Regions from separate parts of the Homo sapiens genome. Here region 1 is linked to region 2. The links come from fine-mapping of genetic effects on plasma protein levels. A gene starts in region 2. The other region holds a variant in brackets. All regions are shown on one strand. Distances are from middle to middle.

What was found. PIP is the posterior inclusion probability: the model's chance that the variant is causal. The UK Biobank Pharma Proteomics Project read protein levels with antibody pairs (Olink). The fine-mapping took linkage between variants from a reference panel, not from the people measured, so its PIPs are less certain.
Region 1: its variant is fine-mapped to the plasma level of the GNPDA2 protein (UK Biobank, PIP above 0.99).

The regions. Positions count from the first base shown.
Region 1 is chr4:44,699,564-44,704,950 of GRCh38, reverse strand. GUF1 (GTP binding elongation factor GUF1) reads right to left here. Exons shown (of 17, transcript NM_021927.3): 17 at 4,023-5,387. It overlaps GNPDA2 (glucosamine-6-phosphate deaminase 2), which reads left to right. Exons shown (of 7, transcript NM_138335.3): 7 at 1,809-3,156. The coding sequence ends at 1,870. Among named protein-coding and RNA genes, the nearest start is that of GUF1, 24 kb to the right of the region's middle. The variant T/C (reference allele first, on the strand shown) is at 2,268.
Region 2 is chr4:44,724,248-44,729,634 of GRCh38, reverse strand. It overlaps GNPDA2 (glucosamine-6-phosphate deaminase 2), which reads left to right and starts at 3,079. Exons shown (of 7, transcript NM_138335.3): 1 at 3,079-3,161. RefSeq lists an enhancer at 2,747-2,876 and a silencer at 3,369-3,663.

The DNA of each region.
Region 1 (5,387 bases), 25 kb after region 2:
TTTGTTTTATTCATTCTCGCTTTTCATTTTTGCTTTTTAAATAGAACAGCTTTGATTTTTAGTATATGACATCATCATCATGAATTTTTTTCTCTTACTTTGTATTTAGGCTCCACCTCAGTAGTTTGACAAAGGTAGAATGAGTTCATTTTGAGTCAAAACCATAAAAGTTACTTTGTATAGACATTGGTTAGAATCTGTGACATTTAACCTTTCTTCTGGTAACGTTTCAGGAAGTCTGGTGCATTTTTATCAGAAGAATTATTTCTGTTTGACTTAAGTAGCAATTATTTATTTATATAAAATTCGTATGTAGAAAGTTGTCAGTTTTTACCTAAAGTCACAGTAAATATTTGACTTAATATCTAAAAAGCAATTAATAGAATTTTCAAAATAATTATTTCTAGTTTGGAAGCAGTCCTATTTGATGTATAAAAGATATATCCAATGTAAAGAAAAAAATTTTATAAAGGAGTTGAATTTTTAATATTTACTGATATTTTAATTTGCATGTATTTTAAAGCTCTGTGTATTCTTTCCGTAATCAAAGTTGTTAGCAAATGACAGATGAATACTATTTAAGTAGAAAAACGATCCTCTACAAAGTGATACTCTGGAAAATGTTGCATCTTCTAAATCATACAGCTGATATTACCCTTATCTTTGTTGTCCCCTCTCCTACTGGACATGAAGTTTCAGGTGACCTTCAAGTAGGCTGTTGAGCAGTTGCAGGACTAGTGAATGGAATGCTTCCCCCTTCCCTCCTTTAGAGTCCCATTCTTATGGTTAGAATTTCTCCTACTACACAAACACTTCCCAGTACTCTTTGCTTGTCCCTTAAAAGTGGGTCTTTCTCAAAGCTGGGATTTTAGAGTCCTTTTTGCAGCCTTTCTGACAAGGAACATCTGTTTACTAACAAGCAACCTATCTCTCCAATCCAGTAATCCCATTTCCTGCAAAACCGCATTAAGTGCCTTTCCCCACCCTCCCATGTTCTTAATACCTGGAAAACTTAACTCATTTCTTTACCCTCCAAAATATAAAATCTCTGGTTCATTAACTGGGTCAGTCTTTTTAGAACTTTTTTCTCCCCAAAGAAATATAGTACTGAGGCATTAAAACAGGAGTAACTGGAAGATCAGCTATTTCCCAAGCAGCTTCCATAGCTAAGAGCAGTCTGCAAGTATATGTACCAATTACAAAATGAAAGTTATAATCTACCGGATTTAAAATCGTAATTTCTATTCTGAATTAAATGATTTAATACAGGTTGTTTTCTGTCTTGTTTTAGTAACCCTCCCTCAGTGTAGAATTTGTAATCAACCTTTGTCATAAATACACATGCCAAACTATTGGAAAGTAATTTACCAGACGAATGGATAGGGTAATGTATTAAGAGTGAGACAGCAGTTCTGAGCCCCTGGCTGGAGTCTAGTAGAGGAACTGCCAGAGGATCAATATCAACATAGACTTTTAGATATAATTAAAACCTATTATCTAAGTCAGTATTCAAATTTGTCATGCTTAATCTCTTTGAAGACAAGAAATGCTCTTCTGGTTACTCCCAAAGTACCTGTACACATTCTAGATCTGCACTGTTACATAATTATAAATTGGTATTTGCTAGGTAGATAAAACTTAAGACATTCTGAAACATTTCTATTTGTACTTTTTCAATAAACTTGACTATATCAAGATGGGAACTAAACAGGCTTACTGTGTCTTATAAAAAATACTTTGTTGTCTAAAGTAAATGAGATAGTTCAAAATTAATAAAAACAACTAGAACTGTGCTTTTTTTCTTTAAGGTCTAATGCATGTGCACAATAAACTTGTGGATCCACTATTCAGTATGAAAGATGGAAACTGAAGGAGACTGGAGCAAAATTCAGCTTGAATGAACAGAGCACTTTTTACTAAGTAGTAGATGAATTTTCAGCTATGCAATATGACAAAACATGGGGAATTTTGAAGATTGTCATTTTTTCATTCGAGTCTCTATGTTAAACATTCCATATTTTGAATATTTATATCTTGTACTTGGGTTTAAGAGAAGTAGCTGGCTCTCAAGATTGACTGGCTATTTATTATAAAGTACTGAAGTCACATAGCCACCTATAAAACAGCATAGAAATGTCTGCCTGTTTAAAAAGTCATTTTAAAGGTAGAGTGTCCACATCAGGCACCATTTGTGATATGACTCCAGTGGCGTATATTTCATTTTTTAATGACAAGACACTCCAAACCTTTCAGATAACAAACTATCA[T/C]TGCAGACCTTCACTTTTGGAATGCAATCTTTATATTTTCTGTGCATCACACACATGCTTTTCTGCACGTGGTTGCCTTAGTCATCTTCCTACAGCACCATCTAGACATCAAAAATTGTGCTATATATCATTGGTAAAGGAAATTTGAAGAGATGACAGTGCCTAAAAGTACAGTTTACATCCTTTTGGAAAGTATGTGTAAGTGCATGTTTTTTGTGCACCTTCTTCTATAGCACTTTTTTACAAATATCTTATTTTTATTTAACGACTTGGGTTCATGTCCCTAATATAAGTATCTTGACAATTATGAGCTTTATACCTAGCAAGCCACTTCAGGAAATTCTTTTGGAGAATATTTTCTGATTATTGTTAAACTTAATATACAATTAGCTTTATTCCTTATAAAATGTCTAAAAGAATAATACGAAGTATATATAAAAGGAATTACTGTAAACTACATTGCCATAGCAATTTACATAAAAGTATATTGTTTTTTATCTTTAACTCAAATAAAGCGTGTAATAAATAAGTTATCTAAATTTCCAGAAGTGAACCTGAAGAATACATGCATTCGACTCCCAACAATTATAGTACATGTGAACCTGCATTCATTTTGGGTTTGTTACCATCATGCATTAGGAGAGTTAGGTTAAAAGATGTCTTTGCCTCTGTGGGGAGCAAAAAAATGCTCCTTTTGCTTATTTTGCATTTCATAAGCCCACCTGGTAGAAGAAGCCTTACTTATCTGCTTGTCTATGTGATTAAAATGTAGTTTCTTAAAATATTAAAATAGCAAATAAATTAATGAAATAAAATTGGTAATAGGGTTTTATGGTTAAAAGTGGGGGATGGGGTAAATTATGCTGCTTTAATTCCAGATGATGTTTTAATAGCCTTATAAATGTTTTTTAAATAACTAGTGAGTAACACTCCACTTACACTTCCAGTAATAAGAATCATTTACTACAAACTATGCTGACTACCTTAGAAAGTCATACAGCATCACAGTGAAAAAGCTAAAGGTACCTGTTGTGCTACATGATTCACCAGTAATTTCTCTGCTTTAAAGGTCTAAAAATTCTCCTTTCCATTTTCCTTCCCTTGATGTTAGGGGCTTAGTTGAGGTTCATGTACTCAAGCTCCTCCACAAGCTGAGGAGCGAAAACTCTGGCCATTTTCATTCCTGCTTTCATTCCCTAAATTGAGGAGCTAAGCTGCTGTTAGGCAAAGAACCTAGCTTTTTCAAGAAACCAACCACTGAATCCCAGCTCTGTCAGGGAAATAAAAAAGTCTCAGCTACTTCCCCAAAATTTTTACATAGATTGAATAAGGGAAGCATACATAGCTCAGCACAGTGGTTGTCACATATTAAAGTCAATAAACGGTGCTATTTTAATATTGATAACAGTGTTTAAACATATTTCAGTGTTTGCTAAAATCTTAGTAATATTAAGTCCTCTGAGGAATGCACTTATAAAGCACACAACTCCAAATCACTAAAGTCATCTGACTGGGAAAGCGGGAAGGGGAAAGAAATTAAGCTTACAGAAAATGCTTTTTTGTACTACAACTAAAACTATAACTAAAACTACTTTTTTGTACTACTATAACTAAAGAGTCATAGGTTAAAAAAAGGTAAAATTAGTCTGAATAAAAAAGACTAAGACTGGTAAATTATTAAATAGCAAGCACATAGTACATATTACGTTCCAAGAACCAATTTGTAACTTATCCTTTGGCAGTGATAGAACAGAACACTTTTACAATTTTTTAATTTCAAATACTGTCATTTTCAAAATACTACTGTCATGGTCTTTCAGATTTCATCTGTTTTTATCAGAACCTGGAAGAGGGAGGGAAGATACATAAGATGATAATGTATGTATCTAGGACTATATCACAGGCTACTTCTACACATGATTTTAAGTAAATCTCCACTTAATTTATAATTAAAATGATTTCACAATAACTGTAAGCTCAAAATATCTGAGACAGCTCTCAAGTCAGTTTAGAAAGTTTATTTTCCCAGGGTTAAGGTGTGCCCATGACACAGCCTCAGGAGGTCCTCACCACATGTGCCCAAGGTGGTTGGGGCACAGCTTGGTTTTACACATTTTAGAGAGACATGAGACATCAATCAGTATGTGTAAGGTGTACATTGGTCTTGAAAGGCAGGACAACTTGAAGAGGGGCGGGGGCTTCAAGCATAGGCAGGTAAGAGAGAAAGGGTTGCATTTTTTTGAGTTTCTGATTAGCCTTTCACTGAATATACAATTTACATGTGAGAGGAGAGTAGAGGAATAGTCAGTTATACCTTAATCTGGCTTAGTGAAACATGAAACAGAGAAAGCAATCATTTATGCATTTGTTTCATGTGAAGACTTTGAGTTCTTTGTCCATAAGGAATTCCCTTGTGAGCAAATTTTATCTTTGTGGCTGTCTTATTTAGGAATAAAATGGGAGGCAGGTTTGCCTCAATCAGTTCCCAGCTTGACTTCCCTTTGGCTTAGTGGTTTTGAGATTTTTCTTTCATATAACCTTAGTATAAAATTCATCCTTGATAGTGTTTATCCCTAAAAGACATTTTCTTCATTCAATTCATTCAAGGTAGAAGATAAAAATCAATGGCTAAATGATGTTGTCTTGCTCTAATACAGTCTGCAGTCTGGTTTGTTCGTTGGCTGAATAAACATGGGAGCTGAGAGCTCTGGAGAAATACAGCCATTTACTGGCTGTGAAATCTCAAGTTAACTACTCTAAAATCGCTTCGATTATGAAATTTAGACAATAATTATTAAAATGTCATTATGAGTTCCTGGTAATACCAAACACCTGTCATTTTACACAAATGCGTTTTGAATGTCTGAAAGACAGCTCCTGCCCTTAATTTAGATGTAAACCATTTAGTTTCAAACTAACCACCTGATAAAATCTATAAACATTTTATCATTAACTAGAGCAGATGTCTGTTATTTGATGTCTATGTTATTTGAGTTTACTGTTTAATAAGTGAATTCATATCAATTAATCCTGCTAACAAATTTGACACTTAAGGTGATTCTGAAAATCCTTTAAACTTAAAGTAGATGGAATCTTAAGTATGGGGCCTTTTAGTGTCCG
Region 2 (5,387 bases):
GAAATGCATCTTCAGACGATTTCATTATAGTGTGAATGTTATACAGTATATGCACACAAACCTAGCATATATACACAAACTACACATATATGGTATAGCCTATTGCTCCTAGACTACAAACCTGTACAGCATATTACTGAATACGGTAAGCAATGTAACACAATGGTATATATTTGCATATCTAAACAAAGAAAAGGTATAGTAAAAAAAAAAGTATAAAAATTAAAAAATATTAACAGTACACCTGTATAGGACATTTACCATGAAAGGAGCTTGCAGGACTGGAGGGTGCTCTGGGTAAGTCAGTGAATGAGTGGTGAGTGAATGTGAAGACCTAGGACATTACTGTACACTACTGTAGATTTTATAAACAATGTAGAGTTAGGCTACACTAAATTTATAAAACGATGTTTTTTTTCTTCAATAGTAAATTTAATTTCCTGTAGCTTTCTTACTTTATATTTAAATTTTTAAAAAACTTTTTGGCCGGGAGTGGTGGCTCACGCCTGTAATCCCAGCACTATAGGAGGCTGAGGAGGGGGGACCATGGGGTCCGGAGATCGAGACCATCCTGGCTAACACAGTGAAACCCCGTCTCTACTAAAAACACAAAAAATTAGCCGGGTGTGGTGGCATGCGCCTGTAGTCCCAGCTACTCGGGAGGCCGAGGCAGGAGAATTGCTTGAATCTGGGAGGTAGAGTTTGCAGTCAGCCAAGATTGCGACACTGCATTCCAGCCTGGACAACAGAGTGAGACTCTGTCTCAGAAAAAAAAAAAACTTTTTGACTCTAGTAACAACGTTAAGGTTAAAACACACATTGGAGAGCTGTCCAAAAATATTTTGTTTCTTTATATCCTTATTCTATAAGTTTTTTTATTTTAAAATCTATTTTTAATTTTTTTCCTATTCAAATTTTTTTGTTAAAATGAAGACACAAACACACATGTTAGCCTAGGCCTACACAAGGTCAGGATTATCAATCTCCCTGTCTTTCACTTTCACATCTTATCCCACTGGAAGTTCATCAGGGCAATAATGCACATGGAGCTCTCATCTATAATAACAATGCCTTCTTCTGGAATACCTCCTGAAAGACCTCCTTGAGGCTGTTTTATAGTTAACTTTTAAAAATATAAATAGGGCCAAGCATGGTGGCTCACGCCTATAATCCCAGCACTTTGGGAGGCCGAGGCAGGCAGATCACGAGGTCAGGAGTTCGAGACCAGCGTGGCTAATAAGTGAAACCCCGTCTCTACTAAAAATAAAACAAAATTAGACGGGCGTGGTGGCAGCTGCCTGTAATCCCAGCTACTCAGGAGGCTGAGGCAGGAGAATTGCTTGAACTCAGGAGGCAGAGGTTGCAGTGAGCCAAGATTGTGCCATTGCACTCCAGCCTGGGTGACAGTGCGAGACTCTGTCTCAAAAAAATAAACAAATAAATAAAAATAAAAATAGAAATAGAATGAATACACTCTAAAATAATGATAAAGAGTATAATATAGCAAATACATATACCAGTAACATAGTCATTTATTATCAAGTATTATATCCTGTACATAATTGTATGTGCTAGACTTTTATGAGACTGGAAGCACAGTAGGTTTACACCTATGTAGCCACAAACACGAGTGGTGTTGCTCTACAACTTTACGTTTACTACAATGTCGCTAGGTGATAGGAATTTTTCAGTTCTGTTATAATCTTATGGGACCATTGCCAAATATCCAGTCCATTCTTTACCTAAACTTCCTTATGTGGCACATATCTGTAATTCAAGACTGTAATTCAGTCTCCACCTTTCTACAGCATTCTTTCTAAAACACGTATGTTCTAGTCTCTTATCTTCAATTCATAAAGCTTAAGTGACTCCCTATTGCCTACAATACAAAGCCTAAATTCTATGCATAGCCTACAAACTACTTCATCATTTTACCTCAATCTTTTTTGGAGAGACAGGGTCTTGCTATGTTGCCCAGGCTGGTCTCCAACTCCTGGGTTCAAGCCATCCATGCACCATGACCTCTGAAAGTGCTGGGATTACAGGCGTGAGTCACCGAATCTGGCCAAAAATCGCTTTTGCAAACTTACTGAAGGCGATAGTACTAATAAACCTGTCTATTATCAGTATGTGAGCAATGTTGCTGTTTGAAGCTAAATCAACGAGAATGTAACATCCTACTCTTCACTAAAGGATGCAAGAGGAGTCATTACATTCAAAGAAGCAGGCTGGATTTACAACCCAGGTGAAAAACTTCATATAACGAGTTTGAGGACACAGCGTTTTACATTTTTTTAACTTGTAGTTTCCACAGAAACAGAACCTTAAGTTGGCTAGGAGTCAAGATTGTATTGTTCCTAACAGAACCCTAAACGGTGTTATTAATGGAACAGTGTTCCTGATGGAACATGGTGAAGACACAACACACTTTTCTCCTTTTGAATGATAGCTGCTTTCTTTACAATAATTTCCACAGCCCAATTCCTTCCCACTCCTGTATAAACATCTGTGATACCCAGCTCAAAGCTGATTCCAGCTTCCCCTATCCCTTTCTTAGACTCATTCAGCAAAAGCCAGTACCCTATTATATAGTGTTTTCTCTTACTGAGACGCTCCCGATTTCCCATGGTACTGTTTGCCCTTTTGCAAACTTTGATGAGTTTTTTGACACAAGACGCTTATCTGTCATTGCGTTTGCAAATATGCATTCAATAGCTTGGAGTAGAGAGAGAAATGTATTCATAAATGGCAAATATATTCATGTTGCCAAACAGCAACATAAGCAACAAAGTACGTGTGAGCACTACGGTCTTACATACTAAATCTCATAAGCCTAAAGAATCTACTGCAAATCCCTCTTTGAAAGATGGGGGGGAGGGGAAAGTAGCGTAAAGTGATGACCCAGAAACTGCGATCTTCCAGGCAAGAAGAGCGCCCAGCCGCACCGCACTCGGACCGAACTCCTCGCGTCTCACCTCAGGCGTCCTAAAGGCGGTGCGCATGCGCAGCGCCCGCCAGCCACGCCGCGGTTCCTTCCTGCGCCTTTATCTGCATCCGGGTCCGTGGGATTCGCGCTCCACTGGTCAGCTGGGGTCGCTCTCGGGTGGTTGGGTGTTGCTTGTTCCCGCTGTTCCAGCATCGAAGAACCATTGGGTCTGCCGGTAAGTTTAGCGGGGGGTGCGGCGGGGGCGCCAAGAAGGGGACTCGGGTCGGGGGACCCGACGGCAACTTCGCCCTGTGCGGCCTTTGTGCTGAGACTGGGACGCCGGGCCGGGGCGGAATGGGTGCTCAGGAACCTCGAGGCTGGGGGCGCGTGGGGTCTCCCGTATTGCCACTCGCGGACCTGGTTGTCCTCTCCGGATTTGTGCCTACGGGAGAAGGCGTCCCTGCCCTCTCCTCTCTCGCGGCTTCTTCTTGACACCTCTCTCTACACTCGTTAAAAATTCCTAACAGTCATCCTCATTTGCATTCGCTGTCCTTTGCCAAGTGAGGGCCAGGCAAACGCGCAGCTGAGGGGAATCTGCAGCCCCCGCCTCCCGGGCAGGAACCACAGCCTTCTTTGCTGTCTCTCGTCCCTCCTCGGGTCGGTCCCACACGCGCGGCCAGGCCACCCTTACGCTTTCAGGACAGGTCAGGTTGAGTAGGGAAAAGCTCAGAGCAGAGGTTCTGCAAGTGTAGATTCTGGTCTTGGCCCCGCCATTAACTAGCTGTGTAACTTCACGGGTGTAGAAGTTGTCATCCACCATTGAAGTTTTGCGATTTATATTCAGCAGCCCTTTTTCCTAGCGATGCACATCCAAAATGAATCAGCACCTGAAGGAAGACGAGGGAAAGGGTGGTGCTCTGTTGTTTTTTGATGCTGTCTTGTGATGCCAGAGAATTGCATAAGGCGACAATAGTTTGGATCTCTGAGGATTGGCAAAAACTGGAAAAGTCAAATCTTAAAAACTTAAATGTGGTGAAGAAATTCTTCTTTGCTCTGGGTGAAGGGATTCATTTGGGACTTTTGGAGGTGACTCTGCGCCCTCCAGAGAGTTTAAGAAAACAAAAAGTTGCCTGTACCTTGGTCTGAGAGACTTGCTTAAACTTCGTTTCAGTGAGATGTGTGGTGTTCTTAACAAATTTCACCTGATTATGAATATCCCCTGTGATAATTTGCAAAAGCAGAGATTCCTTGGACTTCATTTCAGATCTTTTGAAACACTGTGTCTAGGGAGAGGGACCTGAGAATCTGTATTTTTAACTAGCATCGTAAGTGATTCTCAACCGGTAAGACATCTTTGGCTAATGTCTCTTTGAGTCAGAAACACTTAGTTTTAAAGCCAGCTCCCCGGGCCACTTTTTAACGTCAGCAATAAACTTCTCGTAGTTGCAGTTTTCTGTATATGAAGAGTGAGAATAATGCTTTCAACCTCAGAGACAAGTGATTCTAAGCCCTTTGACAATAGAGTTAATCATTTTTGTGTCTACAGAACCTAGCATAGTGCTTAGAATATAATAGGTCTTCAAACGTGTGTTGAACTGAGAAAAATAACATGCCCAGGATGCAGAAGACATTGGAAAGCTCTAATGCTTCTCGTCCTCCTTACCTTATTTTTTTTCCGTTTTATTAACAATCAGCTGGCCATATATTCTTGTTAGAAGTAAATATATCTTTTGATGTTCATTACAGCCAATAATTCTTTCTGATTCTTTGGTTTAACTCTAAAATTGTTTTTGACATTAGATTATGGATTATATTTAAGTGGAGGCTGAGTCCAGTTGTTGGACTGAATTTATGACTTACTATGTAATTTATTTTCTGTAAATAAATAATTGTTATCGGGCCAGAATTCTAGATCATGGTGACCATGATTTTTTGTTGTTGTGTCAGAATTCGAAACTGTTACCTTCTTAAAGACATTTAGATTCCATACATTTATTTTAATAAGACCTTTTAATCTCATTAATTTAGAAAATTTGACTTATTACTCTATGTAAAGTGTGTGGGTACAAAACTCAGGAATGCTGAAACCATGTTATAAAAAGCTTGGTATTGGTGACTGATCCATTTAATATAAAAATAAGAATTAAAAATCTAAGAATTATGGGAATTATTACAGAATGTTCAGTAAATGTTATAAGGGGACGTTTATAAACTATTGATGGTAATGTCAGTTCAACTTCTGTAGAAAAAAGTATGAAGATTTCTCAAAGAACTGAAAATAGAACTACCATTTGATCAGGCAATCTCACTACTGGGTATCTACCCGAAGGAAAATAATTCATTATATCAAAAAGATACCCGCATTCATTTTTATCTCAGCACTATTCACAGTGAGGCAGTAGAATAGGGTCTGGAGGCAGAGGACTTAAGGCCAATTCGTGCTGACTTCCTAAAGCTAAAT